4 separate regions of the Homo sapiens genome follow, and regions 2, 3 and 4 are each linked to region 1. The links come from fine-mapping of genetic effects on gene expression. A gene starts in region 1. Each other region holds a variant in brackets. All regions are shown on one strand. Distances are from middle to middle. Region 1 holds the start of OSBPL8 (oxysterol binding protein like 8). Region 2 overlaps LNCOG (lncRNA osteogenesis associated). Region 3 overlaps OSBPL8 (oxysterol binding protein like 8). Region 4 overlaps LOC105369850 (a long non-coding RNA gene).

Region 1 (8,111 bases):
CAGGTAATGGGTTTTGTGTCTTTCTTACAAGGTCACGAAAACCAATGCTCCTAGTAACTGGGTTTAGCACATGCCCTTGAGATAAAAGTTGGCTGACTCTGCTAAACTCTAGGTTCCTGCCTTCATTTAGTTTTTTAACTTAATAATTTCTTACCCTATTGTCAGTTAATCAATATATTTAATAAGATTTAAAAAATGTTTTTTCCAGGGATTTTGTTTTCAGTGTGACAAGTGTGAACTAGTCCTTGATATTTCTAGAAACAGAATCCTATATTCTCTTTATACTTTACTATCCAAATTTTCCTCAAGGGATATTTAAGACAAATAATACTAAACAGAAATATTTAAAATCAGTATGTAAATATCTTACATGCAAACATTTTGCATGCAAATTTACAGATTTTATAAAGACTGCTTCTTAACATAAATTTTAGGTGGATATTTACCAAATAGCTGGTTGACTAGTTTGTAGATGTCTGTTATTTATTTTATTAAATAGACAAATATTATTGTTCCACAGTACATTTAGCCTTTGACTCATGAGTTTGTTGGCTCAAATTCACTTTAGATGATTTGCAAGATTATGCTACGCAACAAACAATCTCAAAAATATTTGTGATTCACAACAACAAATATTTTTGTTTTACTCTTGTTTCACATCAGTAGCCGTATGTCAGGAGCTGCAAGTCAGTTGCTTCAGTTCTGTACAGGGTGAGAGTTTCAGGTCTGCTCCATCTATTTTCTTATTCTGAGATCTTATCTGGAACATACCTTTCTCATGGCAGGTGGCACAAGAGTAAGAGATTGACCTGAATTTTGCAATCAAATTTAAAGCCTCTGCTTTGATTTAGCATTTAACATCTGCTCACAAAGCACTGGCTAAAGCAAATCACATGACCAACAAGAATACAAGTCTTCAAAGCTGTGTTGAATACCTTATTTATGGCTGAGGTTGCTCTTAATCTAAATTCTCTTCCAGAAAATGAGGATTTTAGTCTAGAATCCTGATTAGTAATTGTCAGCAACATAATTGTCTAATGGGATAAGCCAAATGGAAAAAAGCAAACAACCTCAAGCAACATCTCTGTCATTCTAGGTCAGGGTTGAAATATACTGTGGGAAAGGCTGTCAAGCCTGTCAGTGCTTAAACTAATTTGGAAAGAACTTCCCATTCTTAGAAATGTATAATTAATAAAGCAGTAGGCAAAAGAGATGAATTCTCATTGGAGTTAAAATCGGATCGTTATAATAAAAAAGCTTTATTTCAAAATGTCATTCTTAAAATCATTGTAAGAGTAGCAAACTTGCAGGGCATCTCTGGGAGTTACTGAATATTTTTCAGTTACAGTGCAGGATCACATATTAGTTTCTGTTTATGTTGTCATTACATTGAAAATGCTAGATTGAATTATCATTCCTGGAATCACAATATCAGATTTGAAAGGATCTGAAAAAATGATTTTTCAACTGTAGTGGATTAATATATTTTTGTGTTGCAATCAGTTGTTAAGTATGTCAAAATCATTAGTTATTCATGACAAGTAACTATTATACTAGTGATAATCAAAGTAGAGAAGATTGTGAAAGATATACTTACATTTGTTTTGCAATATCTTCACTTTCAATTACTTGCATTAGGACTTTCTTTTTTTTGAGTGGAGCTGAAAGAAGTTAAACGTAGGCTGTCAGTAATTTGCATAATCCTGAGTATACCGTGTCTGTTTGTTTCCAATGTGATTGCCATCCACCGGGAAAAAAAAAAGGTGGTTTAGTATCATTTCTCAAACAGCATGTGGTCCTACTTGATTGGAACTTGAAATGCAGGGAGTAATTTATCTAGTCATACATCTCATTAGCTAAGTCTGTAACCTAGGCTTCCTTGCTTCCAGTACATTGCTTTTTCCAACAAATGATCAAATTTTCAAAAGCCAATGTATGAAATTGGGGCTGAGGCAGAAGAGAATTAGGCAAGGCAATTTGCCACCTTTTTCTAATCTTTAGTCTCAGTTTCCAAAGTAAAATAAAAGTACCAGAAAAACGGGGTCCAGATGGTGTATTTTGCATATTATCTATGCTCTAGGAACATTCTTTTCCAAATCTATTTGATTGCAACTCACAGTAAGAAATTGTTTAAATCACAACATAGGACATACTCTCACCTTCCACCATATTTGAAACAAAAAGTTTCAGGAAGCAATTTTTGCCCTTACTAGACATTATGCACTCTGGTATTTTATATTGTATTACATCCTAGCCTATTTCATATAAAAATGAAATTGATTTTTGAGTTGCAGGTTGAAAAACATGCCTCTAGAAAACAGGAGACAAGTTAATCTGTTAACAAACTCCAAAGTTACTAGCTTTGCTGAAATAATGTCACAGAATAATAAACTTCCTTCACATTTATTTGTACTACAGTCTCTCAGGCTTCAGAACAGAACCTGGTAGAATCTTTTCCTCTTTGGAACACCAGTTCATGACAATATCTCAGAGATTCTAAGACTCGTTGTTTCCCAGTTCATGACAATATCTCAGAGATTCTAAGACTCGTTGTTTCCCAGTTCATGACAATATCTCAGAGATTCTAAGACTCGTTGTTTCTGACATGTTTACATCTCTGAATTCAAGATGTGTCTCAGGCCGGGCGCGGTGGCTCATGCCTGTAATCCCAGCATTTTGGGAGGTCGAGGCGGGTGAATCATTTGAGGTCACGAGTTCAACACCAGCCTTGCCAAAATGGTGAAACCTCCTCTCTACTAAAAATACAAAAATTAGCTGGGCATGGTGGCGCATGCCTGTAATCTCAGCTCCTTGGGAGGCTAAGGGAGGAGAATCGCTTGAACCGGGAGGCGGAAATTGCAGTGGGCCGAGATTGCGCCTCTGCACTCCAGTCTGGGAGACAGAGTGAGACCCTGTCTCAAAAAAAAAAGGAAAAAGATGTGGCTTAAAGGTGCCTTACATATCAGCGGTATGGCATAGTTTCATTGGCAGCCTTTGTTTTCTTTCTTGGGTAACATAAAACAATGTAAGTCTATGATTTTTTTAGAGCTGCTATGAAATATATTAATAATAATTATATAGGCCAAACTCTATTGCTTATTCATTTCAATGTATCCAGCTTATCAGAATGCCTTCTGATTTCTTGTTAAGAAAATGTAATGAGATGAGAATAGCTTAAGAAAAAAATCCTTAGTTCTGGGCTACAAGGGAAAATGAGTTATGACCCCAATTTAATTATTACAGAAAGCTTTCTCATTTGCCTTCATTGTGATCAGGGTTTGAGTATGATCTTTATTCTACCTCCCTTACTTCTGTATAGTTAGGATTTCATTAGGCGGCTAGAGGGTTCTTCGGATCATGGCTAAAAAAGAAAGCAAAAGGTTAAGTCCTAGAGTTAAGGAATTAGGAAAAAAAAATTAAGGCATTAGAAAAAAAATCAAGAATTAGGCTTTATTTTAAAAAATGGAACAAACTGTCAAATTCCTGCGTACCCGTTTAAACTGTCACCAACCTAACACACTGTAAAACTTAATGACTGTAAAACTGGCAGCAGGATCCTGAACATAACAAGGAACAAAAATAAGTTTGCTAGGCTGTTTTCATCCCAGCATGATTGAAATACACCGTTTCCTCAAAAAAAAAAAAACCTCTAATGAGGAAAGCAGTAAATTAAATGCCACGGTTAATGTGCCACTAGAAATAGGAACAAGTAGTTTAGTTACCGAATGCTTCTTAGGCCATACACTCTACACCACGATGCGTTCTTTTTTCTGTTTCGCTAAAGCTTTCACCAAGCCTAAGGCTGGAGAGGGGTCCTAACTGAGCCCTGACCAGACCAGGGAGCCCTACTGTGCAATCTCCTCAGGTTAGGAAGGGCCCAGTATGACCGGCCCAGAAGGCCTGGCCGATCAACAGGCGCTGGGCCGACGGTGGTGGGCTCGCTTCCTGAGGCTGCCCTTGGGCATGCGGAAGGGGACTGGCTGGCGATAACACCCTGGCGAAGCAAGGTGGACAGTGACTCCCGCCCGGTTCGAGCCCGCCTAGCAGGGGAAGCAACTCCACCACCGCCTCCGCGCACCGTCACGTGACGGGAAGAGGGCGTGGCCGAAGCCCGTGATCCGGGGGGCGGGCGGGGCAGGGGGAGGGCACTAGAATGTGAAGGATCTTCGCGGTTCTGGGTGCCCAGAAAGGCGGCGACGCGGCGGATGACAACATTAGGCCGCGACGCGCTCCTGGCCAGGCGGCGGCTGTAGTGTTAGCTTTGGACGCCGCAGTAGCCGCTGCCGGTAGCAAGCCGACTGAGGGAAGGTGGGGGTCCGCCCGGGCTGGTGGACCTCGGGGCCGAAAGTTCCCGCCCCGCTCGGGGGCTGAGCCGGCAGTGCCTCCGCGGCCGCTGGGCAGCGCCCTTCGTCCAGGCTCGCGCCCCAGCTGCCGCCGACGACAGCGGCCGAGAGAAGTTGGGGTCTGACTAGACGCTTACGGGGCCTCGGACCCCGGCGCCGCGGCGACCTCGGAGGAACCGGCTCCTTGCGTCCCGCCTCCCTGGGAGCTCCGCACGGGTGAGTGTTGCTCCATTCCTGAGGTTGGGGTGCTGGGTTCGCACCCCTCAGGGCGACTGCGCACCCTTATTGCCACGTTCTGAGCTCGGGCTGTCGGGGACTCCTGGCCACCCCCGCCGAGGAGTTCTTTGGCTCCTTTGTTCCCTTTTGGAGTAGGGGGATTGGAAAGGCTGGCAGGGTGGAGTGTTTAGGGGCCCACAGTAGGTGCATCTGCAGCCTTACAAAAGCCGCGGCAGGGGAACGGGGGTGGGAGGCTGTTGGAGCATTTCGACCGCCCCGGGTGTCTGTCCCTCCTGAAGTTTGATAGGTTGATGGCATGGGCCTCGTTGGGAGCCCCCGCGCCCAGGAGAGCTGGCGCTTTGTCGCTCGGTGCGGTTAAGGCGAGGCTCCTTCTTTCCTGTGACAGCCCCAGAGAAGGCTGTGCCGCGCACCGCAGACCGCACCCGCCTTTGCAGAGCCAAGCGACACGGTGTTGTTCCTCTAAGCCTCAGTTCTCCCGGCCTTCTTGTAACGTAGGAGGAAAGCCAAGCCTTTGCTGTGCTTTTAAATTTAATGTTTGTTTCTAAGCCCTCTCTCAAGAGTGGAATCAGGTTCCAAGGAGCTTCACAGGCAGCATGCTTTAGGTTCATTGAACCACCCACTCAAGACTGGCTGAGGCGAAGCAACAGTATATGCAGATTTTCCATTCACAAAAGTCATTTAACACTCTTCTTTATGAGACACATCTGCGTTGCAGAACGTAACCTAATTTCATTTTATTTAAATGCTTTCTGAAATAATAGGTAACTTGGACAACGTAAACAGATGGGTAAACTTTAACTGATAATGTAAGTATATATGCATTAAATAAAAAATTTAATGATGTTTTTGCCTTTCTGCTGCTAGAAGACTTAAATGACGTCTGAGTAGTAATACAGTGTCTCCTGCATGGCAGTTAAGTTTTTCCCAAAATTAGTGCTGCTTTTGAAATAATCCTTTAAAACAGTTTTTGCCTCCCTTCGTATCTAGAGAGAGCAAGAATTGTGGAGAATCGTGGGTGAATTGATTGTTAAATTTTGCTAATTTCCTAGAGTTTCATCTAAACTTGATTTTGCTGAGAGGCTATGATCAGTTTCTATGCTTGCTAGAACCTGTTTTGCAGTGAAATTATTAAGATCATGCTAGTTTTATAAAATAGGTTGGAATAGGAAAAGTAAGGCCATGCAATTTAAAACTGTTCTCTATAAAAGTACAACTAATTTCAAATGTTTGTTACTTTTATTTTTTTTTAATATTAACCGTGTATGGAGTGACTATAATATACCTGCTCAAAGGGCTGAGAAAGGAAATAGATGAAACTTAAGCTACCTTTTGGGTCTTTAATTATGGACATCAAGTTATTGCGGTCACATTCCATGTCAACCGTTTGAACAGCAATACCGTGTACACAGGTGCTTAGAAATGCCTGTTTAATTAAAAATGGCCATGGTTTATTTCTCTTTGATTGAATCATAATAGTTATTGAATCTCTGATCTGTGGAAAGATGCTACTGTATTTTCCTTAGAATGTTACTGCATTTTAAAGACAGTCAAATATGTTTTTTATAACACATTCAGGGTACTTATACATTTGTCAATATTCAGTTCCTTGGTTCATTTAAAAATTGGAAGCCTTAGAAAACACTTTGGGGATAAATTTACAATTGTGTATAATGAATTTATGTTTTAGTTTGCTTTAAGAAAAATGATGAAATTATGAATTTGTAAAATATGCATTACAAAAGGATTTTTTTTTTTTTTTTTTTTAAGACTGTCTCACTCTGTATCCCAGGCTGGAGTGCAGTGGTGCAACTTGGCTCACTGCAGCTTCTGCCACCTGGGTTCAAGAGATTCTTATGCTTCAGCCTCCTGAGTAGCTGGGATTACAGGTGCGTGCCACCATGCCAGGCTAATTTTTGTATTTTTATTAGAGATGGGGTTTCACCATGTTGGCCAGGCTGGTCTCCAACTCCTGGCCTCAAGATCCGCCCGCCTCAGCCTCCCAAAGTGCTGGGATTACAGTCATGAGCCACTGTGTCTGGCGGATCTTTTGTTTAAAAGTATGAATTGCAGAATTTTAACCAGTGTTAGTACATTTCAACTTGGCTTTGGTTTGTAAATAATCCTTCAAAAGTAGATTACTTGAATTAAGGCATTAAAGACAAAGAATTGATACAGTACATAGATCTAGTTTTCTAATATTAATTTGGAAAACTTTTATCCTAATATTATCCTAATAACAATGCCTGAAATGTCATGTTGTAATGTTTGTATTATATTGAAAGTTAAAAACATTTATAGCAATGTTCTTGGAGCATCAGGCAATTCAAAGAGGACATAGGTCCTGCCTTAATCTTACAAATAATGACCTGCAAATAAGACAGAAACACAACTTGAATAAAAAAGCCTTTGAGAGGCCAGGCCCGGTGGCTCACGCCTGTAATGCTAGCACTTTGGGAGGCTGAGGTGGGCAGATCATGAGGTCAGAAGTTCAAGACCCGCCTGGCCAACATGGTGAAACCCCGTCTCTACTAAAAATACAAAAAAATTAGCTGGGCGTGGCAGTGTGTGCCTGTAATCCCAGCTACTTGGGAGGCTGAGGCAGGAGAATCGCATGAACCCAGGAGACAGAGATTGCAACGAGCCAAGATCATGCCATTGCACTCCAGCCTGGGCGATAGAGCAAGACTCAGTCTCAAAAAACACCAAAAAAACAAAAAGCCTCTGAGAAATATACAATTTTTAGTGAAGGTGGCTGGGTACAAGGAGATTAGTAGAAGTGCTTGACTGGAGCAGTTGTGGCCAAAGTATAGCTTCCTTGTGATGAGACACAGGAAGAGATGTCTAGACTCATGTTGTGTGCATATTTCATGGCAGTATGTGGGAAACCCCTGAGAGATTTTAGATCTTTCTTCCCACCTTGGTCCCCATCCCTCACATATCCTCACAAAGTCATAAAATTCTCATGTGGAAGGCGTGATAGAAGGAATTTTTCTTCCTGAAAAGTGTTATCAAGCTTGCAAGGGAGAGAGCTATTTTCGGAGACCTTATAGGGAAGAAATCCTAGTCCTAGAGCATCATATTCTTATACCCTGTTATTTTTACCTTTGTCGAAGATCCAGATAATGTAAATTCTCCATGATAGCAAGGACCTTGTCTGTTTTGCTCACCATTGAATCTCCAAATGTTCAATAGTTAATGAATGAAAAAAGTCTACTTCCAGATATATGACTGGAGAACAAAAGGAGTATCTGATAATGTAGTCCAAACTAAATGCAAGCAGCGAAATGATAAAGGAAGGATGTTAGCTTGGGAGAAGGGGAACAGGTCATTTAATCTGGGAAACTTTCTTGGAGGAGGTGATTCTTGAGTTAGGTTTTGGTGTGGGCTGTGTGTCTGAAGATAAGCAGTGTCTAAGGGGGTAGACAACGTGCAGCAAAGCATTTAAGTCAGACTGAATAAATTATGTCAGATAAAGCACAGTAAGTCTTTTTTTGTAACATTATGAAGAATTTTTATTCTCCCATCTCTATT
Region 2 (8,111 bases), 260 kb after region 1:
TGTTTCCTTAGATGTTGCACCCTAGGCTCTCCCTTGTCTCCCTCTAGTCCTGGCTATGGAAGTGAGGACATAGGGCATTTGGGGGAGTAAATAGGTAATAGGATCAGTAGTTTAGAGATCCTCATTGGGTTGAAGAATTATTAAAATTGGGGTACTAGAGGAAGTGACTCAAAAATATGAGACAGTTTAAGATTTAGATGTTTGAGTGTAAGACTATGGAGTAAACGTGAGCAACATAATGAAATCTGTATAAAAAATAAAAAATTAGCTGGACACAGTGGCTCATGCCTGTAGTCCTAGCTACTCGGGAGGCTAAGGCAGGAATATTGCTTTCGCCCAGGAGTTCAAGGCTGCAATGAGCTATGACTGTACCACAGCACTCCAGCCTGGATGACAGAACGAGACCCTGTTGTCTCTTAAAAAAATTTTAAAGACTATGGAGTAGATACAATTCTTGCCATTCATGAAGTCTAGACGTGTATATGACTAAGGGAGTAAGCGGGTGGCTAAGAAGTGGAGGACAAAATCATTAAAGGTGAAGAAGTTGAGGAAATTTTAAAGGCCAGGGAACTAGAAGAATCATCTTCATGGACACTAAACCCCCCAAGAATCATGACTAGAGCTGTAGAGATAGAACTAGTAAACCTGGACCTAAAATTTTCCAGGAACGAGGGAGAGTAACTTCAGGTCCTACATAATTGAAACTTCTGTGATTCTGAGATAATCCCTTAGGAATTCTGTCCCTGCTGGGGAAGTCCCGGTGTGACAGCTGGTGTGACACAATGCCTGCTTACTGGATCAGACATTTCCGATGCCTCACTCAGGAGGAGGCTGAGATCCTGATATATATTAAATATATATTTTTAATATATTTTAACATATATTTAATATATCCAGGATATATTCAGAGTTGAGCCCAGTTATTGCATGGAATCCTTAACCAGAGGTTTAACGTCCAGATGAAGTGCTGCTCCTATTCCATGTTGAATGTTTTCTGACACAAAAGCAAGAATGCTCTCCCTGCCCTCCAGCTGTCAATAATTATAAAAGATGACCATCAAGAACATAGGTATAAAACAGAAGGTCTGGTCACAGCCCAGTGTGGGTTCTCTTGAGTTTTCATTTGCACAGAACCACGGCCACCAAACCACAGCATAGGTTTCTGCTGTTTTTGAGCCAGCTCATGGGTTAATGTTTCCCAGTCCTGGTCATTTGGAGTCAGTAGTCCACAGTGCATACTATGCATTTTCTTCTTCATCCATTCCCATCTTAATCCCTACAGTGACACTTCTAGTCACCCCCAATCAAAAAATGTATAATTATTTCCAGTCTTCATTCTTCTTGATGACATTCTATCATAATTTGCCTGATGACTGTCCTTTTCTGGTTTGATCCCCCACACTTTCCCCTGCTGGTCCCTTTCCTTGCACCCTCTTCATTCTGTGATCTCGTATCCCTTTTGCCCTGTAAGGGCTCACTTGTTGGCTCAAATTCATCCCAGACTGAACTGAACTAGACAATTTACAAATTTTCTGAATTTATAAATTTTCTAACTTAGTAATAAGCTGATGTTGCTGGTGGTCCTGTTCTGGCCTTGTTACCCTGGGAGTGGGACTAGGTTTCTACCTGTCCATACTTTCCAGAGGTTGAGTCCTAAACACGCTGGAGGAGGCTTTGTTCCTCTTAAGATGACAGGCAGCTCAGATTAGTTCTCTCCTCTGTCACATTAGACCAAGCGCTTACCACCTGACCTCCTGATTAAGACAACAGACTTGTTGCTGAATTATTTGGCTCTGGGGTCTTCCCTTCTCTAACCCCTTAGACACTGTTGCCAGCAAAATTTTCCCAAAGCACACGTCTACAGGAATGACATTCAAAAAAACCAACAACTGGTATGGCAACAACTGGTATGTGAGCCACTGTGTCTGGCCCATAATTTTCTTAATAATACTTTATTTTCTCTAGTTTACTTTATTGTAATAATACAGTATATGATCTATATAACATATAAAATGTCTTAATTATTATTAACACAGGCCTGGCATGTTGGCTCACACCTGTAATCCCAACATTTTGAAAGGCCAAGGCAGGCGGATCACCGGAGGTCAGGGGTTCAAAACCAGCCTGGCCAACATGGTGAAACCCCATCTCTACTAAAAATACAAAGATTAGCTAGACGTGGTGGCGAGTGCCTATAATCCCAGCTACTTGGGAGGCTGAAGGACGAGAGTCACTTTTATCTGGGAGGTGGAGGTTGCAGTGAGCGCAGATTGCACCACTGCACACCAGCCTGGGTGACAGAGCGAGACTCCATCTCAAAAAAAAAAAAATTATTATTACCACATATTACTGTGTTATCAGTGAGACTTTTGGTTAACAGCAGGCTATTAAGATTTGGGATAATCAAAAGTTACATGCATATTTTTGACTACATGAGGCTCAGCACCCCTAACCCCTGCCTTGTTCAAGGGTCAGCTGTATGTCAAAATTCTAACAACTGCTATAGTCATGTTGGCATACTAGGTGAACTCTAGACTTCTATAATGTCATTTCTCTTGTCAAGAACATTCAATAATAGTCCATCTTTAAGTACTGGATCAATGAGTATACATCAAAGTTCATTGTATCAGATACCAATATACATCTTCAGGAAGGTGGGCTCTGAAACATCTCAAACAGGCATCTTTAGAAGCAAACCTCATTCCTTGAAAATAATTTGGAATGGCCTCACCTGAACCCTAGTATTTGCACTTTGTCTGCAACAAGACTGTAACACAGAGGTGTATATTACACAAGGGCATTTGGGTAGAGGACTGTGCAGAAAAGTTTTTGGAATTCCAACAGAAGGGAGTTTCAAATGGGGATCCAAAGTGGCTATTCAAGGCCGGGCATGGTGGCTCATCCCTGTAATCCCAGCACTTTGGGAGACCAAGGCAGACAGATCGCTTGAGCTCAAGAGTTCAAGACCAGCCTGGGAAACATGGTGAAACTCTTTCTCTACAAAAAATACAAAAATTAGCCAGGCATGGTGGTGCATGCCTGTAGTCCCTAGCTATTCAGGAGGCTGAGGTGGGAGGACGACTTGAGCCCATTGTCACGCACGTCCGCGTGAAGAGACGACCAAACAGGCTTTGTGTGAGCAACAAGGCTGTTTATTTCACCTGGTTGCAGGTGGGCTGAGTCCAAAAAGAGAGTCAGGGAAGGGAGATAGGGGTGGGGCTGTTTTACAGGATTTGGGTGGGTAGTGGACAATTACAGTCAAAGGGGTTTGCTCTCTTATGGGCAGGGGCGGGGGTCACAAGGTGCTCAGTGGGGGAGCTTCTGAGCCAGGAAAGGAATTTCACAAGGTTAATCACTCAGTTAAGGTGGGGCAGGAACAAATCACAATGGTGGAATGTCATCAGTTAAGGCAGGAACCAGCCATTTTCACTTCTTTTGTGATTCTTCACTTGCTTCAGGCCATCTGGATGTATATGTGCAGGCTTGGGCTCAGAGGCCTGACATTCCCGTCTTCTTATATTAATAAGAAAAATAAAACAAAATAGTGTTGAAATGTTGGGGCGGTGAAAATTTTTTGGGGGTGGTATGGAGAGATAATGGGTGATGTTTCTTAGGGCTGCTTCGAGTGGGATTAGGTGCGGCGTGGGAACCTACAGTAGGAGAGATTAAGCTGAAGGAAGATTTTGTGGTAAGGGGCGATATTGTGGGGTTGTTAAAAAGAGCATTTGTCATATACAAAGATTCGTGATGGCCTGGATGCAGTTTTGTATGAATTGAGAAACTGAACAGAAGACGCAAGGTCTGAATAAGAGAAGGGGAAAAACAGGTATTAAAGGACTAAGAATTGGGAGGACCCAGGACATCCAATTAGAGAGTGTCCAAGGGGGTTCAGCGTAATTACTTGTTTGGTTGGTGAGTTTTTGGGCTCTATTCTTGACA[G/A]AGTCCTTTTTGTTAAGTTGGAGGCTGAGCTTGGTGAGGTGTGTTTTTAAAAGACCATTAGCCTGTTCTACCTTTCGTGAAGATTGAGGACGGTAAGTGGTATGAAGGTTTCACTGAATACCAAGAGCCTGAGAAACTGCTTGGGTGATATGACTAGTAAAGGCCGGTCCGTTATCGGACTGTATTGAGGTGGGAAGGCCAAACCAAGAAATTATGACCGCGGTGGCCTTTTCAGACCCTGTAGGAAAGGCCTCTACCCATCCAGTGAAAGTGTCTACCCAGACCAAGAGGTTATTTTAGTTTCCTGACTTGAGGCATGTGAGAAAATTCAATTTGCCAGTCCTGGGCCGGGGCAAATCCCTGAGCTTGATGTGTAGGGAAGGGAGGGGGCCTGAACAATCCCTGAGGAGTAGTAGAATAGCAGATGGAACACTGAGAAGTGATTTCCTTAAGGACAGATTTCCAAGATGGAAAGGAAATGAGAGGTTCTAAGAGGCGGGCTAGCAACTTGTAACCTACATGGAAGAGATTATGAAATGATGATAGAATAGAATGGGCCTGTGAGGCTGGAAGGAGATATTTTTCTTAGTCCAAGAACCATTTGCCTTGTGTGGGAAGAGATTGATAGGTGGAAGTTTCAGTGGGGGAGTAGGTGGGAGTGACTGATGAGAGGGAGAAAAACTGGCCGTGAGGGACAGAAGTTGGAATGCTAGCTGCTTCTTTAGCTACCTTATCAGCATAAGTGTTACCTTGAGCAATGGGATCTGATGCCTTTTGATGGCCTTTGCAGTGAATGAATCCAGCTTCCTTTGGAAGTAAAGCAGCCTTGAGAAGAGTTTTTATTAAGGAGGCATTAATGATGGAGGACCCTTGAGTAGTGAGGAAACCTCTTTCAGCCCATATAACAGCATGGTGGTGTAGGATATGGAAGACATATTTAGAGTAAGTATAAATATTGACGTGTAGTCCCTTTGCAAGAGTGAGGGCCTGAGTTAAGGCAATGAGTTCAGCTTACTGAGAAGTAGTGGAGGGAGCAGAGCAGTAGCCTCAATGATAGATGTGGAAGACACTATAGCATAGCCTGCGTTTGTTGGTGAGTGGCTATTAGGCCTGCTGGAACTGCCATCAATAAACCAAGTGTGATCAGGATGAGGAACAGAAAAGGAGGAAATATGGGAAATGGAGTGAATGTCAGGTGGATCAGAGATACAGTCATGGGGGTCAGGTGTGGTATCAGGAATAATGTGGGAGGCTGGATTGAAGTCCGGCCAGGAACAATGGTAATTGTGGGAGACTCAACAAAGAGTGAGTACAGCTGAAGGAGCTGGGGAGCAGAAAGTATATGCATCAGGTGGGAGGAAGAAAATAGATTTTGGAAGTTGTGAGAACTGTAGAGAGTGAGTTGAGCATAGTTTGTGATTTTTAGGGCCTCTAAAAGTATTAGGGTGGTGGCAGCCACTGCACAGAGACATGATGGCCAGCCTAAACGGTAAAGTCAAGTTGTTTGGACAAAAAGGCTACAGGGCACGGTCCTGGTCCTTGTGTAACAATTCCGACTGCACAGCCCTGCACTTTGGCTGTGTGTAATGAAAAGGTTTGGGATGCAGGGAGAGCTAGTGTGGGAGCAGTCTCTAAAGCTGTCTTCAAGGAATGGAAAGAGGAGTGGGGAAAGGATTTAGGATCTATGGGGTCAACTAGGTTTCCTTTTGTGAGTTTATATAATGGTTTCATTAGGAGGCAAAACCAGGTATCCAAAGGCGAAAGTATCCAACCATGCTTAGGAAGGAAAGGAGTTGTTATTTTGTAGAAGGGATTGGGGTTTGAGAGATCAGTCAGACATGATTGGCAGGGAGAGCACGTGTGTTTTTATGAAGAATTATGCTGAGGTAGGTAACAGATGGAGAAGTGATTTGAGCTTTGGAGGATACCTGATATCCTTTGGAGAATAAATGTTGAAGGAGCAGGAGGGTGTCTTGTTGAGAAGATTCAAAGGAGGCGCTACAAAGTAGAAGGTCATCAATATATTGAATAAGGTGAGAAGTGGAGGGGTGGAAAGAAAGTAAATCATGAGAAAGAGCTTGGCTGAAGTAACGAGGGCTGTCCCTGAAGGCTTGCAGCAGCATAGCCCAGGTAAGCTGCTGGGACTGATGGATGTCAGAGTCAGTCCAGGTAAAAGCAAAGAGAGGCTAGGACAAGGGGTGTAGGGGAATAGTGAAAAAAAGCATCTTTAACATCAAGAATGGAATAGCGAGTTGTGGAGGAAGGTATTGAAGACAAAAGAGTGTACAGGTTGGGCACCACAGGGTGGATAGGCAAAACAATTTGGTTGATAAGGCACAGATCCTGAACTAACCTGTAAGACTTGTCTGGTTTTTGAACAGGTAAAATGGGAGAATTGTAAGGAGAGTTTATAGGCTTTAAAAGTCCATGTGGTAACAGGCGAGTGATAACAGGCTTTAATCCTTTTAAAGCGTGCTGTGGGATGGGATATTGGCGTTGAGCGGGGTAAGGGTGATAAGGTTTTAATGTGATGGTAAGGGGTGCATCATCCATCGCCAAGGAGGGAGTAGAGGTGTCCTATACTTGTGGATTAAGGTGGGGAGATGCAAGGACAGGATGTGAAGGAGGCTTTGAATTGGGGGGAAAGGCGGCAATGAGGTGTGGCTGTAGCCCAGGAATAGTCAGGAAAGCAGACAATTTAGTTAAAATGTCTCAACCTAATAAGGGAGCTGGGCAGGTGGGGATAACTAAAAAGGAGAGCATAAAAGAATGTTGTCCAAGTTGGCACCAGAGTTGGGGAGTTTTAAGAGAACTTAGAAGCCTGGCCATCAATACCCACAACAGTTATGGAGGCAGGGGAAACACGCCCTTGAAAAGAGGGTAATGTGGAGTTGGTAGCCTCTGTATTGATTATGAAGGGGACGGACTTACCCTTCACTGTAAGAGTTATCCAAAGTGTCTGTGATGGTCCTATAGGCTTCCCAGGCAATCAAGCAGTGTCAGTCTTCAGCTGCTGAGCCGAGAAGATCTGGGAAGGAGTCAGTCAGAGAGCCTTGGGCCAGAGTTCCAGGGGCTCTGGGAGTGGCTGCCGGGTGAGTTGGACAGTCCATTTTCCAGTGGGGTCCTGCACAGATGGGACATGGCTTAGGAGGAATCCGAGGCTGCGGGCATTCCTTGGCCCAGTGGCCAGATTTCTGGCACTTGAAGCAAGCTCCTTGGGGAGGAGGTCCTGGAGGAACACCTGGCCACTGCAGTTCAGACGTTTTGAAGTTCTTGTGTGATGGAGATGTGGCTAGAGTTTCTCTCACAGTAGAGGCAAGTAATTGCAACTCAGAAATAGTTGCTACTTGGCTGCCTCTACTCTATTATTGTACACCTTGAAGGCGAGGTTAATTAGGTCCTGTTGTGGGTTTTGAGGGCTAGAATCTAATTTTTGGAGCTTTTTCTACTGTCAGGAGGGGATTGGGTAATAAAATGCATATTGAGAATAAGACAGCCTTCTGGCCCCTCTGGGTCTAGGGCAGTAAAGTGTCTAAGGGTTCTTGCCAAACGGGCCATGCACTGGGTTTTCATACTTGGTGAAAAAGAGCCTAAACGCTAACTGATTTGGGAGAGGTTGGATAAAGAAAAAGGAGCATTAACTTTGGCTATGCCTTCAGCTCCAGCCACCTCTCTAAGAGGAAATTGTTGGGCAGGGGGGGAGGGCTAGTCGCCGAATGAAGCTGTAAGCCAGACCAGGCGTGATGAAGGAAGGTAATAGAAGGGTTATAGGGTGGGGGAGTGGAGGCTGAAGAAGAGTTGGGACCTGGATTGGCCTGGCAAGGAGCAGCCTGGGGAGGAGGGGAAAGGTCAGATGGGTCTGTAGAAAACGAGGATTCACATGACTCAGAGCTTGGGGTGGAGACTGAAGGAACTGACAGGAGAGAAAGAAGAAAGATTTGGGACGAGTTGCATTGGGAGCAGAGACTAGGGAGGGACCAATGTGTAAAAGAATGCCTGGATGTCAGGCACCTCAGACCATTTGCCCATTTTTTGGCAAAAATTATCTAGGTCTCGTAGGATGGAGAAATCAAAAGGGTCATTTTCTGGCCATTTAGAACCATTGTCAAGTTTGTATTGGGGCCAAGCGGTGTTGCAGAAGAAAATAAGACACTTAGATTTTAGGTCAGGCA
Region 3 (8,111 bases), 190 kb after region 1:
ACAGGAGAATTGCTGAACCCTGGAGGTGGAGATTACAGTGAGTCGAGATCACTCCACTGCACTCCAGCCTGGGCAACAGAGTGACAGAGACTCCATCTCAAAAAAAAAAGCACATAACTGTATCTTTTAAAAGTAGTCATTATGTAAAAATGAGAATATGGATGAAATATGTTTTGGATATAAGGTAATGAATACATGTTTGGGCACATTGAGATTGAGACATTTTTAAGACTTTCTACTGTAGATGTCTGGTAGGTGTTCTAAATATATTTTGTTTGTTTTGAATTGGTTGAATAAGTTTTGTGAAATTTAATAAACAACATTTTATTTCAGGAAACTCATTATCTGCAATATTAGAGGGAGAAGCACGGTTAACTTTCTTGAATAGAGGTGAAGATTATGTAATGACAATGCCATACGCTCATTGTAAAGGTAAATATTTTCTATACTTGAATTAGATATTAAGCTTTCCTTTTAAGTAAATGTATGTAGCTGTGATTTGTTATGCTTTGTGATTGATGGAGTCAGACTTACATTTTGTTTGAAAGCATCCTTGGATTACAGATATTTAAGATTATTGCTATCATTTGCTGAATATTTCTGCGGTGAATTAATTCACCTGTAATGGACTCTTTGTGATGTGTACTTTAGTCAGAAGAGACTGATTTATCATAATGGAATTTCTTTGCACTTGCCTGATGTGCAAATTTTCAAATTTGACAAAACCGTCTATTATTTCAGAATCTGTAAAGATGATTTTCATCTTTTTGCACCACCATGCTTTTTTAAAATTTTAATTTACTATTTTTTAATGTACCAAGTTTTTTAAAGATTTTTCTCACCCTCATTTGGCAATTTCTTAATGTATTATGCTTTTTGCCCCATTATTTAAAATACAGATAAGGGTATTACATAATAATTGTCATCTATAACATTACAACATGCTAGGCACCCAACTGTTCAATGCATTTATTTAATCATTTCAGCAGCTCCTATAAAATAGAAATATTATTATTCCCTTTTTTAGAAGAGGAAAAATGAAGCACAGAGAGGTTAATATGCCTGAGATCATACAGCTAAAATGTGGCAAGTCAGGATCTGAACCCAGGTGGTTTACCTCTGCACTCTGAACTTTCAACTATTTTGCATCAGTTTAGTGTGGTCATGATGTGTATCCTCCCTTCCAACCGGTTTCTTAAAATCTTAAAAATACCTTTTTTGGTAATTATCCTCTATTTTGGGAACTGATTCATGAAAACATATAAATTATTCAATATGAAAAGTGGGCAAAGGATACGAACAGACACTTTTCAAAAGAAGACATTTATGTGACCAACATGAAAAAAAGCTCATTATCACTGATCATTAGAGAAATGCAAATCAAACCACAATGAGATAGCATCTCATGCCAGTTAGAATGGTGATCATTAAAAAGTCAGGAAATAACAGATGCTGGAGAGGATGTGCAGAAATAGGAACAATTTTACACTGTTGGTGGGAGTGTAAATTAGTTCAGCTATTGTGGAAGACGGTGTGGCTATCCCTCAAGGATCTAGAACTAGAAATACCATTTGACCCAGCAATCACATTACTGGGTATATACCCAAAGGGTTATACATTATTCTGCTATAAAGACACATGTACACGTATGTTTATTGCAGCACTATTCACAATAGCAAAGACTTGGGACCAACCCAAATGCCCATCAGTGATAAACTGGATAAAGAAAATGTGGCACATACACACCATGGAACACTATGCAGCCATAAAAAAGGATGAGTTTATGTCCTTTGCAGGGACATGGATGAAGCTGGAAACCATCATTCTCAGCAAACTAACACAGAAACAGAAAACCAAACACCACATGATCTCACTCATAAGTGGGAGTTGAACAATGAGAACACATGGGCACAGGGAGGGGAACATCATACACTGAGACCTATTGGGAGGTGGGGGGCAAGGGGAGGGATAGCATTAGGAGAAATACCTAATGTAGATGATGGGTTGATAGGTGCAGCAAACCACCATGGCACGTGTATACCTATATAACAAAGCTTCACGTTCTGCACATGTATCCCAGAACACACAGTTGAGAAATCTCGGAGGGCTGAATCTTATCGAAGGCCAACCCAGCATGTACAAAAGAGCCTAACTTATGGCCTTAGTCTAGATTATTCTTAGAGCTTCAAGTATAGTTCTTGAAGTAAGCATGGAGTGAAATATCTTTAATTATGAATTGATAAGAACACATATTTTTAAATTTTCTATCATTTAGAAAAAATAAAACTATATTCCATGTAGATATCCATGCGCTACTTAGCTTACAATAGGGAAAATTTTTTATAGCAATGCATGGAAAAAGAAAAGAAGTTATAACCACTTGCGAATGAGCATATGAAATGATTTTTATAAGATGTTTCACCCTGTATGTTTTCTAAGGTGTGTTCCCCCAAGTCACTAGTCTCACAAATTGTTTTGTAAAATAAGAGTTCCATAGCCAAATAAATTTGAGAAACATTGCATAGTCTGTTCCCCTCTCAAAAGATAATATTGTACATTGCATGTTAAAGGCTGCCTTAGCATCTTAGACCAACAGCAGATACACACACAACCTGTTTAGCTTTGTTAAACCCAGAGTTTCCCCAGCTTTTAACCACAGAACTTATTTTGTAGTTTTTTGTTTGCTTTGCTTATGCATTTGATTCTTGTTATTTGCAGTAGTTATGTTACATAAAGTCACCACTGAGTTAGCAAATACTGAGCCATTGCTCCTGGGGGAGTATGAGATTGGATTCCTGTGAGCCTCTTGTGCCAACATTTTCATCAGCCAGTTAATCAGTACATAACCTTGTTTTATATATGCTTCTATTTAAAGAAACCTGATGTAATTATAACATTAATTACATATTATTGATTCATTAACATTGAACTAACAGCCAACAGAACTAAAGCCTAAACGTAGCTTTTAACACACATTTTCCCTGTAAAATACAGTATAGCTTTCTTGCACTTAGGAACACTAGACAGCACTGCAACACTACATGTGGGTCCATTTTAAACAGCAAAACCACCAGTGAAAAGCACAAAATGTGAAAACATGATACTAAATACACTGCAAAAAGGACACTTTTTTTTTTTTTTTAAAACAATGTGGGAGCTGAACCAAGAGTGTTTGCCTTGCTCAGCCTCAGCTCAGAATGTGTGCATTGGGTGACTCAAATTTTTCGCTACTCTGCACATGTCTCCAAATGACTACAGAAGTACTGTGGGTATTGATATTTTACTGAGTAGGTGAATTTACAGATAGGGAATCTGCACATAATGTGAATCAGGTGTTATCTATTTATATCCTACAGAACCAACTGTATGTCTATATTATAGTTTTTCATTTGAGTGGGACAGAGTGATTTTGAATTATGTTTCTCCTAAAAGATTAGATTACTAAACTGTTTATCGTGAGCCATATACTATACTATACTCTTTTCAATTTTTTGTCAAATCTTTTTCCTTTAGGAATTCTTTATGGTACAATGACACTGGAGCTTGGTGGAACAGTCAATATTACATGTCAAAAAACTGGATACAGTGCAATACTTGAATTTAAACTAAAGGTTAGTAGACAATACAGTAGGTATCACCTAGCTAAAGGAGAGCCATACAATAAATATTGAATAAAGGGCACCATGTATTTCCTAATTAAGGACTAAATGTAAGAACACAATTTATGTCATGTCAAGGATAAGTGCATCTAAGGAATAAGGGCAAGGCTGGGTGAGTATCTTCGGGTAGCCTAAGATAGCAGCCTTGGAAAATTCAAATTAACACAAAAGACATTTTTTGTTTTTCATCTTAATTAATAAAACTGTGGGTATTATATAGAAGATGAGATTTAAGAAGTGATTGGATAGAAATTTCTTAGTAAATTAAAGGATTGTTTTTACCAAATACCAGAAGATATGTGTCATCTTGCAGTCTAGCTGTGTAAACCAAGGCACAGTTGTATTAGTCACTATTTCTGTGTAATAAGTTACTCTAAAACTCACAGACTTAATAACTATGTGCTGTTCCTCATGAGTTCTGTGAGT[C/T]AAAAATTTGGACAGGGTATACTGGGGATAGCTTATCTCTGCTTCATAATGTCTGGGGTCTCAGAAAGACTTTGTAGGCCATGGGTGACTCAATAGTTAGGGACTGTAATCACCTGAAGGCTTATCACTTACATATCTGATACCTGGTCTAGGGTGACCGAAGGACTAGAACTGCTAATCTGAGCACCTGTATACATGGCCTTTCCATGTGACTTGATTTCCTGACAGCATGACAGCCTCAAAGTAGACTTCTTACTTGGCAGTTGAGGGTTTCAAAGTGCAAGTGCCCCAGTGAGCAAGACAGAAACTGCATTTCCTTTCCATGACCTAGCCTGAGAAGCCAAATTATATCACTTCCACCATCTTCTATTATTTGGAGAATTGTAAGACCACCCAAATTCAAGGAGAAGAAATATAGACCCCACTTCTCATTGGGAGAGTGGCAAGGTCTCCTTGAGGAAGAGTATGTGGGCTGAAGGGGAGAGGGTACGTATTGTCAAGGCCATCTTTGGAAATTTTTGTCTGCCTCAAAATGAAAGGGAAATTTGAGAACTTAATGTGAATTAATTGTTCTTGAACAATAGTATATTCAGATAAAAATATTTCTGTAAACTAGTAATATTTATTACTAAATTGCTGCTATGTTGATATCCAGCTGATAAGCAATTTTGCTCTGATAAAAAAGACCTCTTAAGTATTATTTGATGCAATGTCTTTTATTTTATTTTTCTTTCACCTTGGCAAAATTTTCCTTGTATGGTGATGATAATGTTTGAAGATCATGATGAATGAGTTCTTAAGTATATATGATGCCTTTAAGTATGACATTGGAGCATCAAAATTTTGTCTCTAAGGAGAGATGTTAGTAAGGCATTATAGTAACTCAGTGTATTCCTTCTAATTTTATTTTTTGGAGGCTTTTTTTGGCTATATATTTTACTTTTGTTTGTTTGTTTTTTAAGGAAGGGGTGTTATTTATTTCAATGGATCGTTAATTCCATTAGGTTTATTGAGTTGTTATTGCTTAAGATAACGTCACATTGATAGGGCACAGTCTTGACAGGGGAGGACACAGGATTTGAGCATACATGGAACATGAGTCAGTTATATCAGGGTGATCTTTCTTAATATGTTTATTTTGATTTAATATAGTCTGCTTGTTTTATCCTATTTTTTTCATAGCAGCAATTCAGATTTCTTATTAAACATTTCTAACTAAAATTTGAGTCAGTATTTTTTTACTGCTTGTGCATTCAATAGTACTGTAACTATACAAGCAATTTTTGTTGGGTTTTTTGTTTTGGTTTTACATTATATGTAAATATAAGTGAAAAGTAAAATGTTTAACATTTTCTCGTTTAAAAGCCATTCCTAGGGAGTAGTGACTGTGTTAATCAAATATCAGGGAAACTTAAACTGGGAAAAGAAGTCCTAGCTACTTTGGAAGGTCATTGGGTAAGTATTTTGTATATGAGCTTTACAAAAAGAATTTTATTCTGTGGGAAAAAAAAAATCACATTTAAAATTTAAAACTTATTCCGTTGCTGAAAACATCACTATTTAACATAAGCTTCATCTTAATAGCAGATATTTTGGTGGTGTTCTGTTATCAACAGTAGTTAATTTTGTGTAATATTTTATTTCCAAAACTTAAAATCAGTAGAAATAGCTAACACTTATATATGACTTACTGCATTATTTAAGAATGTTACTCATATTAACTGATTTAATATTTATAACATATAACGCTATGAGGTGAGTATATAGGTGCCATGCCCATTTTATTATTGTTTATTATTGTCCCCATTTTACAGAAGAGGACACTGAGGCACAGAGAGTTCACATAATTTGCTCAAAGTAGGTAGTGGAACAAGAATTAAAGCCCAGGAACCCTGGCCCCAGGACTGTGCTTTTATGCACAGCACTCTACTCACATAGAAGAAAGAGGCATAGTTCCAATTAGAGTTATATTCCTTTCAGTGGAACATGGAAAGGATATAGTGGTGTGTGAGAGCAATGGCTTTTATTTACTTCTCTGCTAACCTAAATTCATATTTATGTAATTTTGTTAAGAGACGCTTAAATGAATAAAAAGAATCATGGTACTGCATGGATATACCATACTATGAGCACTGAGTATATGCTCCTTTCTGCATGCAGTAAGCAGAAAATGTTGAGAAATATGAGAAAGTGAAGTTAGGGACTTTGTTAAGTGGCCACATACACTCTGAAAATTTTTTTTAATTGCCTTAAATCTGAGAGTCTTCTGGAAAAAAGATAAAGCAGCAGTCATTTTTAAAAAATGAAATTTCTGTCTGGGTGGGGTGGCTCACACCTATAATTCCAGCACTTTGGGAAGCTCAGGAGTTTGAGATCAGCCTGGGTGACATAACAAGACCTCTTCTCTACTAAACATAAAAATAAAAAAATTAGATGGGCATGATGGCACATGCCTGTCCCAGCTACTCAGGAAGCTAAGGCAGGAAGATTGCTTGAGCCTGGGAGGTGGAAGCTGCAGTGAGCCATGATTGTGCTACTGCCCTCCAGCCTGGGTGAGAAAGCAAGACCCTGTCTCAGACAGATAGATAAGATAGAGATGAGAGTGAGAGATGACAGAGAGAGAGAGAAGGAGAAGGATGGTTAAACAGGTAGATAAATTAGATAGGTAAAATAGATTAGATAGATAAGGTAGATAGCACCGCTGCACTCCAGCCTACACAAGAGAGCAAGACCGTCCATGTCTTAGATAGAAAGATTATTCGATAGAGATAGACCTCAAATTTTTAATGCTAGTAAAGGCTCTTTCAGAGGGATGTGTGTGTGTGTATGTTTGAGTATATTGAATCCATGGATAGTCAACAGCATCTCATTGTAGCTGCAACAAATACTATGCTCTACTTGGACAGTTTGGAGATGGTTATTGAGGCTTTGCATGTAATGTTTGAAATTTATTAAGTAAAACTTATGAAATTTCACAAACTGGATATTCAACCAAATTCTTTTTAATTAACTAGTATTACGTAGTCAATCTTAATGTTTTTATAAAAATGATAAGAAACTTGGAGTTTTTGGAAAAGTGCTAGTTATATTTGTTTTAAAAATGCTTTTAACTGGAGGATTAACCAGAAGAAATTATCACCGTCATATTACTATACTATATAATTGCCTTCTAAGTATAATTCTTTACATTAATTTTGAATTTTTTTAAATATAGGATAGTGAAGTTTTTATTACTGATAAAAAGACTGATAATTCAGAGGTTTTCTGGAATCCAACACCTGACATTAAGCAATGGAGATTAATAAGGCACACTGTAAAATTTGAAGAACAGGGAGATTTTGAATCAGAGAAGTAAGTATACTGTTTTACAGCTAACTTCATGAGGATCAGAGAGTAGTTTTTCAATTCCTTAATGATATGGTCATTTTGTCACCTTCTGTCATATCTTAATTCAGCAAAATAGTTTATCATTTGTGGAAGTGACAGTATTCTGTTTTTGTGTATATGAATGTCAAATATAATATAAATCGTCTTGCTTTTCTGTAGCTCAAAACTACTCATTTTTTTCTTTCTCAATTGTTCCAGCACCTTAAAAAAAAAGAAAGAAAGAACGTTTTTGTTTAAATAAGATTACAGGACTAATTAATGACTCTTAGTTTCTACCTGGCAACAGTTTTCTAACCTGATTTAAGCATTAGAACTCTAGGTAAAGGGAGTGGTGCAGAATCTACTTCTGTTCCATTCTCTGATACAAAAGTAAAGTTACTGGATGGACTGGCTTCTATAGGATTTATTAGTTGGGTAATAACTAAGGCTATCATTTCTGTTCTTAAGTCATGAACTTCTTGCTAGATGGCTTATATTTTTGAATCAGAAATATTGTATACACATTCCCTATTTTATTGTTGTTATATCTTTGTGTTAAGAGAAAGAGACTTATGTATAAGAGATATTTTGCTAGGCACTTAGTACTTATTATGCAACTTTGTCCTCCCTACATGTTTGCACATACATATCATTCTCTGT
Region 4 (8,111 bases), 30 kb before region 1:
CCCATTGACCCCTTTGCAGAATTTGGGCTTCCTATCTGTGCATTCTTAGGCTTTTCAGGATTAGAAGCACTTGTTTGGTATGAAGGGGACTTCTATGAGGGCACACATGAAGTCTCCATTGAACTGGAAACTATAACTATCACATGATCATTTTAGATCACTTGTGTCAGTGGACCATCAATGAAAACACTTACTATCTTGGTGGTGATAACTGACCTTGATTACCCATATGAAATAGAGTTGCTGCTACCCAATGGAGACAGGAAGTCCGATGCATGGAACACATAGGATTCACTGAGTTATTTCTTCGTGCTCCATGTCTGGTGATAAGTATAAATGGGTAATTGTAATAATTAAGACTCACTGAAGAGCAAGAATTAGAGTTCAGACCCTTCAGAGATGATGATCTGGTTGCCCCCACCCAGTCAAGCAACACAGACTCCCTGAAATGGTAGCCAGGATGAGACAAACTAGAATAATCTTTTTCACATCCTTTCAGCCTACCTTTTATACCAACTATTGCTATGGCAACCAGTTTTGTGCAACTGTACCACATATTTATCATTTCAAAACCTGTGCTGCTCTGATGATATGGCATGGATGCCAATGAGAACCCACTCTGCGCTTAGGCATGTACAACCTGGAAGAGTAAAGAAGTTAACACTCTCTGGGACAATCTTTGACTGCACTTGTAATCTATTGCTGGATAACAAGTTACCAAATCTAGCAGCCTAAAACAATAACATGTATTATATCCCAGTTTCTGTGGTCAAGAGTACAGACACAGCTTATTTGGATTTTCTGCTTCCAGGTCTCTCCAGGCTAGAGTCAATGCATCAGGTGGGCTGTGTTCTCATTGGGAAGCTCATCTGCTCCCAAGCTCATATGGTTTGCCGAACGAATTTATTTCATTGAGGATATAGGACTGAAAGCTTCAGTGTGCTGGTTGGCTGTCAGCTGGAGGATGCCATTAGCTCCTAGAGTCCATTCAAGTTGCCTGCCATGTGGTCTACTCCATAGGCAGCAACATAGCAGTTTGCTTCTTCATGGCCAGCAGAAGAGTCTACTAGCAATATGAAGTCTTACATAACATAATGTTATCATAGGAATGCCATTCTGTCACCTTTGCCATATTCTATAAGTTAGATGCTTCACAGATTCCTCCCATATTCATGGGATGTAATTAACAGGGGCATTGATATCAGAAAGTGGGGGTCATTGGAGAATCAGCCTAGGTTCTGTCTGCCAGTCTTTCCTCAGGCCCTCCCATATGAAATATATGGTTTCTCCCCTTCCAAGGTTCCTGTATTAGTCCGTTTTCACACTGCTGATAAAGACATACCTGAGACTGGGAAGAAAAAGAGGTTTAATTGGACTTACATGGCTGGGGAGGCCTCAGAATCATGCTGAGAGGTGAAAGGTACTTCTTACATGGCGGCGGCAAGAGAAAATGAAGAAGATGCAGAAGTGGAAACCCCTGATAAAACCCCTGATAAAACCATCAGATATCGTGAGACTTATTTGCTACCATGAGAACAGTATGGGGGAACCTCCCCCATAATTCAAATTATCTCCCACCAGGGCCCCTCCCACAACCCATGGGAATTGTGGGAGTACAATTCAAGATGAGATTTGGGTGGGGACACAGAGACAAACCATATCAGTTCCCAAGAGTTTCATTCATTATAGCATCAGCTCAAATTCTAAAATTTCATCATGTGAATCAAGTCCAGGTGCAGATGAGCCTCCTACGTATAACCTGTTAAGTAAAGCTCCTGGACACAATTATTCTCTAACTATGGACCTCTGAAACCAAGGAAATGAGTTATCTGCCTCCAACACACCCAACATACAATGGTGGGACAGACACAGGATAATAGCTATAGACATTCCAGTTTAAAAATAGGGGAAATGGGTAGTAAAAAGGAGTCACTAGTCTATAGCAGTTTTGAAATACAACTGGATTTATTGGAAGTTCCTTAATTAAGTTTCTAGGCTTGGGAATGATTCTTCATGGCTCTTGGCTCTGCTTTCTGGGTTCTTGGTTCCACCATCTGAGTCATTCTTCCTTTTTCATGGAAGGTAGCATGTGTTTGCAGATGAGTAGTTTTATCAGCCTGCTTTCTGCCAGTAAAATTTTGGAGGTCTGACAGCCTCTTTTCATTTTCTAGTCTTTCTGTCTGTCTTATTCCAAGTTGGCACTGTTTCTGCAGAAATAATTTTCTCAAGAATGTTGTGGTTCTTTCTGTATTTCAGTGGCATTCACTCTTATCAGACAAAGGCCACATCTACAGATTGTTTCAAAAATAATTCCATCTCCTTTAAGCTTCCTAGAGGCTCAATAGTGTGATTGAGAGGATCTGAGGCATACCCTTAGATCTTTTCAAATCTAAGGGCCGTATCTTGAAATACCCCTGAGTACTCTGACCTTTGATCTTTTGGGGGCTTTAAAAAAGATTATAGAGTAACTTCAAGTGCATTTTCTCTAGAGTAGGCTTTTCTGACAGTGCCCAAAAGCCATCTCCAACTGTTAATATTTTTTGCCATCTGGGGAAGATGAGGATTTTTTAAATTATCAAGTCCTGATTCCTTTTTGCTTAATAGTTCTTCTCTCAATTTGTCTCTTTTCTTGAATTTTCCTGTAAGTAGCAAGAAGAAACCAGTTGTCCCCTTCAACACTTTGCTTGGAAATCTCCTTAACTATATAACCAAATTCATCCATTTACAAGTTCTGCTTTCAACGTAATTGCAAGAAATAATTTCACTAAGCTTTACGCCAGTACATAACAAGGATCTCCCTTCTTCCAGTTTCCTATAGCATGTTCCTTACTTCCTTCTGAGTCCTCAACAGCAGTCTTCAATATCCACATTTCTACTGAGAGTTTGTTCGCAGTGATTTGGGATTTGTCTATCATACTTTTCAAGCATTCTTCTAGTCTCTGTCCACTGATCAGTTTCAAAGCCACAGACATATTTTTACATATTTATTACAGTAGCATTCTACCTCTAGGCACCAAAATCTCTATTAGTTTTCCAATTCGATGTAACAAATTAACACAAGTTGAACACATTAAAATAACACACATTTACTATCTCTCTTTCTGTAGGTCAGGAGTCCAGATACACCTTAGTTGGGTTTTCTACTTTGGGGTCTCTCCAGGCTACAGTGAAGGTGTTGGTTGGACCATGTTCCCATCTGAAAGCCTGAAGAAAGAAGAATCTTCTTCCAAACTCTCTCAAGTTGTTGGGAGAATTCATTTCCTTACAGTCACAGGACTGAGAGCTTCAAGATTTTGTTTTGTTTTGTTTCTGTTGGCTCTCAGCTTCTACAAGCCACCTCTGAGTTCTTTGCCACATGGTCCTCTCCGATAGGCAGTTCATAACATGACAACTTGTTTCTTCAAGACCAGCAGGAAAGTGAGAGAGTGAGTCGGCTATCAAGACAGATTCTTACATAATATAACATAATCATGGGAGTGATATCCCATCACATTTGTCATATATTGTAATGCATGTATTACATTACATCATGGGAGTAACATCCTATCACCTTTGCCTTATTCTTCTGGCTGGAAGCAGTTCACAAGTTCTACCCAGTCTTACGGTGAGGGGCATAAAGAAGGTCATTAATACCAGAAGGCAGAGATCATTGGGGGTTACCTTAGGATATGTCTGCCACATTGGGGGAAGGCAGACAATTCTAGGTAGCTATTCAAAGATCCAGAGAAATGAGCCTGAGTTACCTACAACAATGTTCAGATTGATTAATGTATTCTTGAGTTAGCTTTCCTTCCTTTCATGTCTTAATTTTCCTAGCCCCTCACTCCTATTCACTGGGATCTCTTCCCAAAATCAACTATCCGCACAGAAGTTATTGTCTCAGACTCCGATTTCAGGGAAGAAGCCAGGCTAAGATAGCAGAAGAGAATAAACTTGTATAAATGGTATGCTACAAGTTAGGAGGGATGGTAGGCAGGAGGTTCTCCTCCTCAGAAATTAATTACCCCCTACCCATATATTTCTCTACACTATAATGAGGCAGTGCTAAAAGTTCATGGAAGAAAGCATGCTAAAGGTGCTTTCTCTATGCAAATCTCAAGATACAGCATCTTAACTCTCTCTTTCATAAAATTAGAATTGGCCCAAGATACTAAATTGGGCTAGGCTGGCAAGTGGGGTTCAAGTAGTTTCCATTGTAGGGAGAGAAATTTAATAAGTGTAAACCTGGCAGAGCTCAAAAAAGAGCAACAGAAGTACTTGAATACAAGGGATAAAACTATTAAAGAACATTTTTCACAAATAAGCCTTGTTTCTTCAATTATCTCTATTTCCACCATGCCTGCCATCTCAAGTGATGACTATCACTCTGCTCTGGCCAAGTTATATGTCAAATCACAAAGGTGAAATGAGATGACTGTCAGGTCATATGTTTGAGGGGGAGGAATGGAATTACAAAGAAAGGGATACCATGACACTTGGAGAAAGAGTTATGAGGAAAGAAAACCAATGGGGTGCTTAAGAAAAGGGCTTGAGTCAGAGTCAGCTGGATACCATGTCTGACACAGTGAACTATGATAATCCTCACAAAACATTTCTAAAATGATTGCCTTAGGATTGCACTGGCTGCATGGCCAGGGTTCTCATTTCTCATTTCCTTTTCTTAGAATTAAGGTGATGCTCTTTGAAATGTCTAAAGATAGATGACTACCATTGGTAGTCAACCCTGAGGTTTTTTATGTACAGGCCCAGCACTGAGCTAAGTGTTTTGTATGCAATTGCACAACATCTTTATGAGGATAGATGCTATTATTATCTGTTTCTCTAAGCATGGGGAAACTGTTAAC[C/T]TCAGGGTGTTGAGTAACTTGCCCAACATCATACAGCTAGTAAATAACAGAGCCAAGACCCAAGACCTAGGCCCGCATTTGCTGGCTTAAAAGTTTAAGCTTTTTGCTTTTTTTTTTTTTTTCCAGTGGTGCTATCTAAGCTTACTGCAACCTCTGTCTCCCAGGTTCAAGCAATTATTCTGCCTCAGCCTCCCAAGTAGTTGAGATTGCAGGCATGCACCCCCATGCCTGGCTAATTTTTAAATTTTTAGTAGAGATGGGGTCTCACCATGTTGGCCAGGCTGGTCTCGAACTCCTGAACTCAGGTGATCCATCTGCCTCAGTCTCCCAAAGTGCTGGGATTACAGGTGTGAGCCACCGTGCCTGGCCCCAAGGTTAAGCTTTTAACCACTGCATCACACTGCACCTCAGGTTTCAAGATAGGGAAACTCAATTTTTAAAAATATTTATAAAGCATTTACATTTTTTCCATATCTCATTTTATAAAGTGTCTTAGCTAGTAAGCTTAAAAATTATTTTCTTCGGCCAGGCATGGTGGCTCATGCCTGTAATCGCAGCACTTTGGGAGGCCGAGGCTAGCAGATCACCTGAGGTCAGGAGTTTGAGACCAGCCTGGCCAACATGATGAAACCCCATCTCTACTAAAAATACAAAATTAGCCAGGCATGTTGGCACGTGCCTGTAATCCCAGCTACTTGGGAGGCTGAGGCAGGAGAGTCACTTGAATCTGGGAGGCAGAGGTTGCAGTGAGCTGAGATCACGCCATTGCACTCCAGCCTGGACAAAAAGAGCGAAACTCTGTTTCAAAACAAAAATAAATAAATAAAATAAAATAATTTTCTTATCAAGAAAATGCAAATTAATCTGCAGTGACAGAGAGTGGATCAGTGGTAACTTGAGGATGGGAAAGTCCCAAGAGTGGCAGGAAGAAGAAATTACAAAATAGCATGAAGAAACTTTCGGGAATGAAAATCAAAATTTGTAAACATATTTATCACTGCCAAAAGTTAAAGAGTCTTGCTCAAGATTAGCCTGAGAGTTAGTAGCAGAGACAGGATAAAAATATAGTTTTTAAGCTTCTTGAACAAGTGTTTTTTTCCTCTCAATTTGGTAAATTATTTCCATATGGTTTTAAAAAGGATATGAAGAGACATAAAATATGACATGAGTATTATAGAAAGAAAATTGTGTTTAGGAATTTTGGGCAGCACTATTCACAATAGCAAAGACATGGAATCAGTCTAAATGCCCATCAATGGTAGACTGAATAAAGAAAATGTGGTACATAGACACCATGGAATACTATGCAGCCATAAAAAAGAATGAGATCATGTCTTTTGTGGGAACATGGATTGAGCTGGAGGCCATTAGCCTTACCAAACTAACACAGGAACAGAAAACCAAATACTGCATGTTCTCACTTATAAGTGAGAGCTAAATGATGAGAACTCATGGACACAAACAGGGGAAAAACAGACACTGGGGCCTACTTGAGGGTGGAGGGTGAGAGAAGAGAGAGGAGCAGAAAAAATAACTTCTGGGTACTAGGCTTAGTACCAGGGTAACGAAATAATCTGTAAAACAAACCCCCATGACATGAGTTTACCTATATAACAAACGTGCACATGTACTCCTCAACCTAAAACAAAAGTTAAAGAAGAAAGGGAGCCTGTGAAGCCCCTCAGTCACTCCTCCTACATCTCATCCTGTTCTCCCACTGATCTAGCTTAAAGTCTTCCTGCTGGAACATTTCACCCTATACCAGGTGGTGGGGAAAAAAATTTTTTTTATTAACTTACGTATCTCAATTGAGCATTGGAAGTCTATTGTGAATTCATCTGATGAAAAAGTTGAATGCATCTCTTCAGAAGTTTATCATTATCATCTGCAATCTACTGAGAACTTTTTAAAAAATGAATCCTGCAATTGTATGGCCAGCAGGGGGCAACTAAATACTTCCCAAAACAGCATCTTGTATAAGAGAACAAGTTAAAATTGGAGACTGTTAGCATTCTTAGCTGTGTAGGAGAGCTGACTTCCTTCTAAAATGATAATTAACACCTAGACACATTCTCACAATACTGAATTTGTGAAGATAATTGGAACAGTTTCCTAAGTGGACAGATTATAAAACCACATTCTGGGGCCTGTATGTGGCAGATTTGTTTTGGCTGTTTTTTCAGTCCACAAGGTTCCTTGCAAAAATTTATGTATTTTATGATGAATAGCTTTGTAAAACTTCTTGTATTATAGAAAATATAATGAATCTTGACTTATTTCTGTAGGTTATTTTAGAATTCTGCTATTTTTACTTAACATTCAAAGATAAAAGTAAATAGGGATTGCAGAGGATCTTGTTCTTAAAGTATAATAAAGAATCATTTCTTAGCCCTGTTTTATAGAACTAATTTTTAAGCTTGTTATATTAGTTAGGGTTGTCCAGAGAAACCAAACCAACAGAATGTGTATACATATAGATATTATAGATATAGATGTTTATTTTAAGGAATTGGCACACATGATTGTGGGGACTCAGTTTCTGCTTGAGTCCAAAGGCAACCTGCTGGCAGAATTCCTTCCTTCTCTGGGGAGGTCAGTCTTTGATTTATGAAGGCCTTCAACCGATTGATGAGGCCCGTCCATATTATGGAAAGTAATCTGCTTTACTTAAAATCCACTGGTTAAAATGTTAATCTCATCCAAAAACACCTTCACCAAAACATCCAGAATAACGTTTAACCAAATATCTGGGTACCACAGCCCAGCCAAGTTGTCAAATAAAATAACCATCACAGTTGCCTATTTCTTTACATCACAGTCTCAAAGTCGTAGGAGATCTATATGGTGAAATAGCTCAACCCTCCTCCAGATGCAGCTGCAATGCCTGGCAAAGAGAAAGCATTTAGCAAATATATGCTGATTTGAATTGAACTGAATGTATATGAATTGAATTAAATATCCCTAGTGGTGGCTAGGTTCTGCCAGGCTTCCAGTGCGGTGCTGGGAGGTAATGGAAGATAGAAGTTAGGCACAGGCTCTGGAGTCAGATAGGTCCATATGCTGAGGCTCCCCTACTTACCTTATATGTACCTTTGGATGAATAACTTAATTTTTCTAAGCCTACATTTCTTCACCTATATAAAAACAACAGTCATAATAGCTATTTATGCTACATATTGCTTTGTTAATCAATATTTACTTCTCTTTCCTTTCTGGCCACTCAGTGGATTGACTGTATTCCTCAGCGACCCTACAACTGAATGGAGC

Evidence for each region. PIP is the estimated chance that this variant, and not a neighbour inherited with it, causes the effect.
Region 2: its variant is fine-mapped to the expression of OSBPL8 in blood mononuclear cells (TOPMed, PIP 0.92).
Region 3: its variant is fine-mapped to the expression of OSBPL8 in blood mononuclear cells (TOPMed, PIP above 0.99).
Region 4: its variant is fine-mapped to the expression of OSBPL8 in whole blood (INTERVAL, PIP above 0.99).

What each region holds. Positions count from the first base shown.
Region 1 is chr12:76,555,845-76,563,955 of GRCh38, reverse strand. OSBPL8 (oxysterol binding protein like 8) reads left to right here and starts at 4,185. Exons shown (of 24, transcript NM_020841.5): 1 at 4,185-4,559. LOC105369850 (a long non-coding RNA gene) reads right to left here and starts at 4,054. Exons shown (of 4, transcript NR_188081.1): 1 at 3,723-4,054; 2 at 1,598-1,661. RefSeq lists a silencer at 4,355-4,544 and an enhancer at 4,955-5,264.
Region 2 is chr12:76,292,765-76,300,875 of GRCh38, reverse strand. It overlaps LNCOG (lncRNA osteogenesis associated), which reads right to left. Exons shown (of 4, transcript NR_146531.1): 3 at 6,871-7,063. Among named protein-coding and RNA genes, the nearest start is that of LNCOG, 37 kb to the right of the region's middle. The variant G/A (reference allele first, on the strand shown) is at 3,940.
Region 3 is chr12:76,370,773-76,378,883 of GRCh38, reverse strand. OSBPL8 (oxysterol binding protein like 8) reads left to right here. Exons shown (of 24, transcript NM_020841.5): 16 at 334-432; 17 at 3,514-3,611; 18 at 5,451-5,540; 19 at 7,300-7,436. Among named protein-coding and RNA genes, the nearest start is that of BBS10, 26 kb to the right of the region's middle. The variant C/T (reference allele first, on the strand shown) is at 4,086.
Region 4 is chr12:76,585,668-76,593,778 of GRCh38, reverse strand. All of the region lies in intron 3 of LOC105369850 (a long non-coding RNA gene), which reads right to left. Among named protein-coding and RNA genes, the nearest start is that of OSBPL8, 30 kb to the right of the region's middle. RefSeq lists a silencer at 4,424-4,624. The variant C/T (reference allele first, on the strand shown) is at 4,845.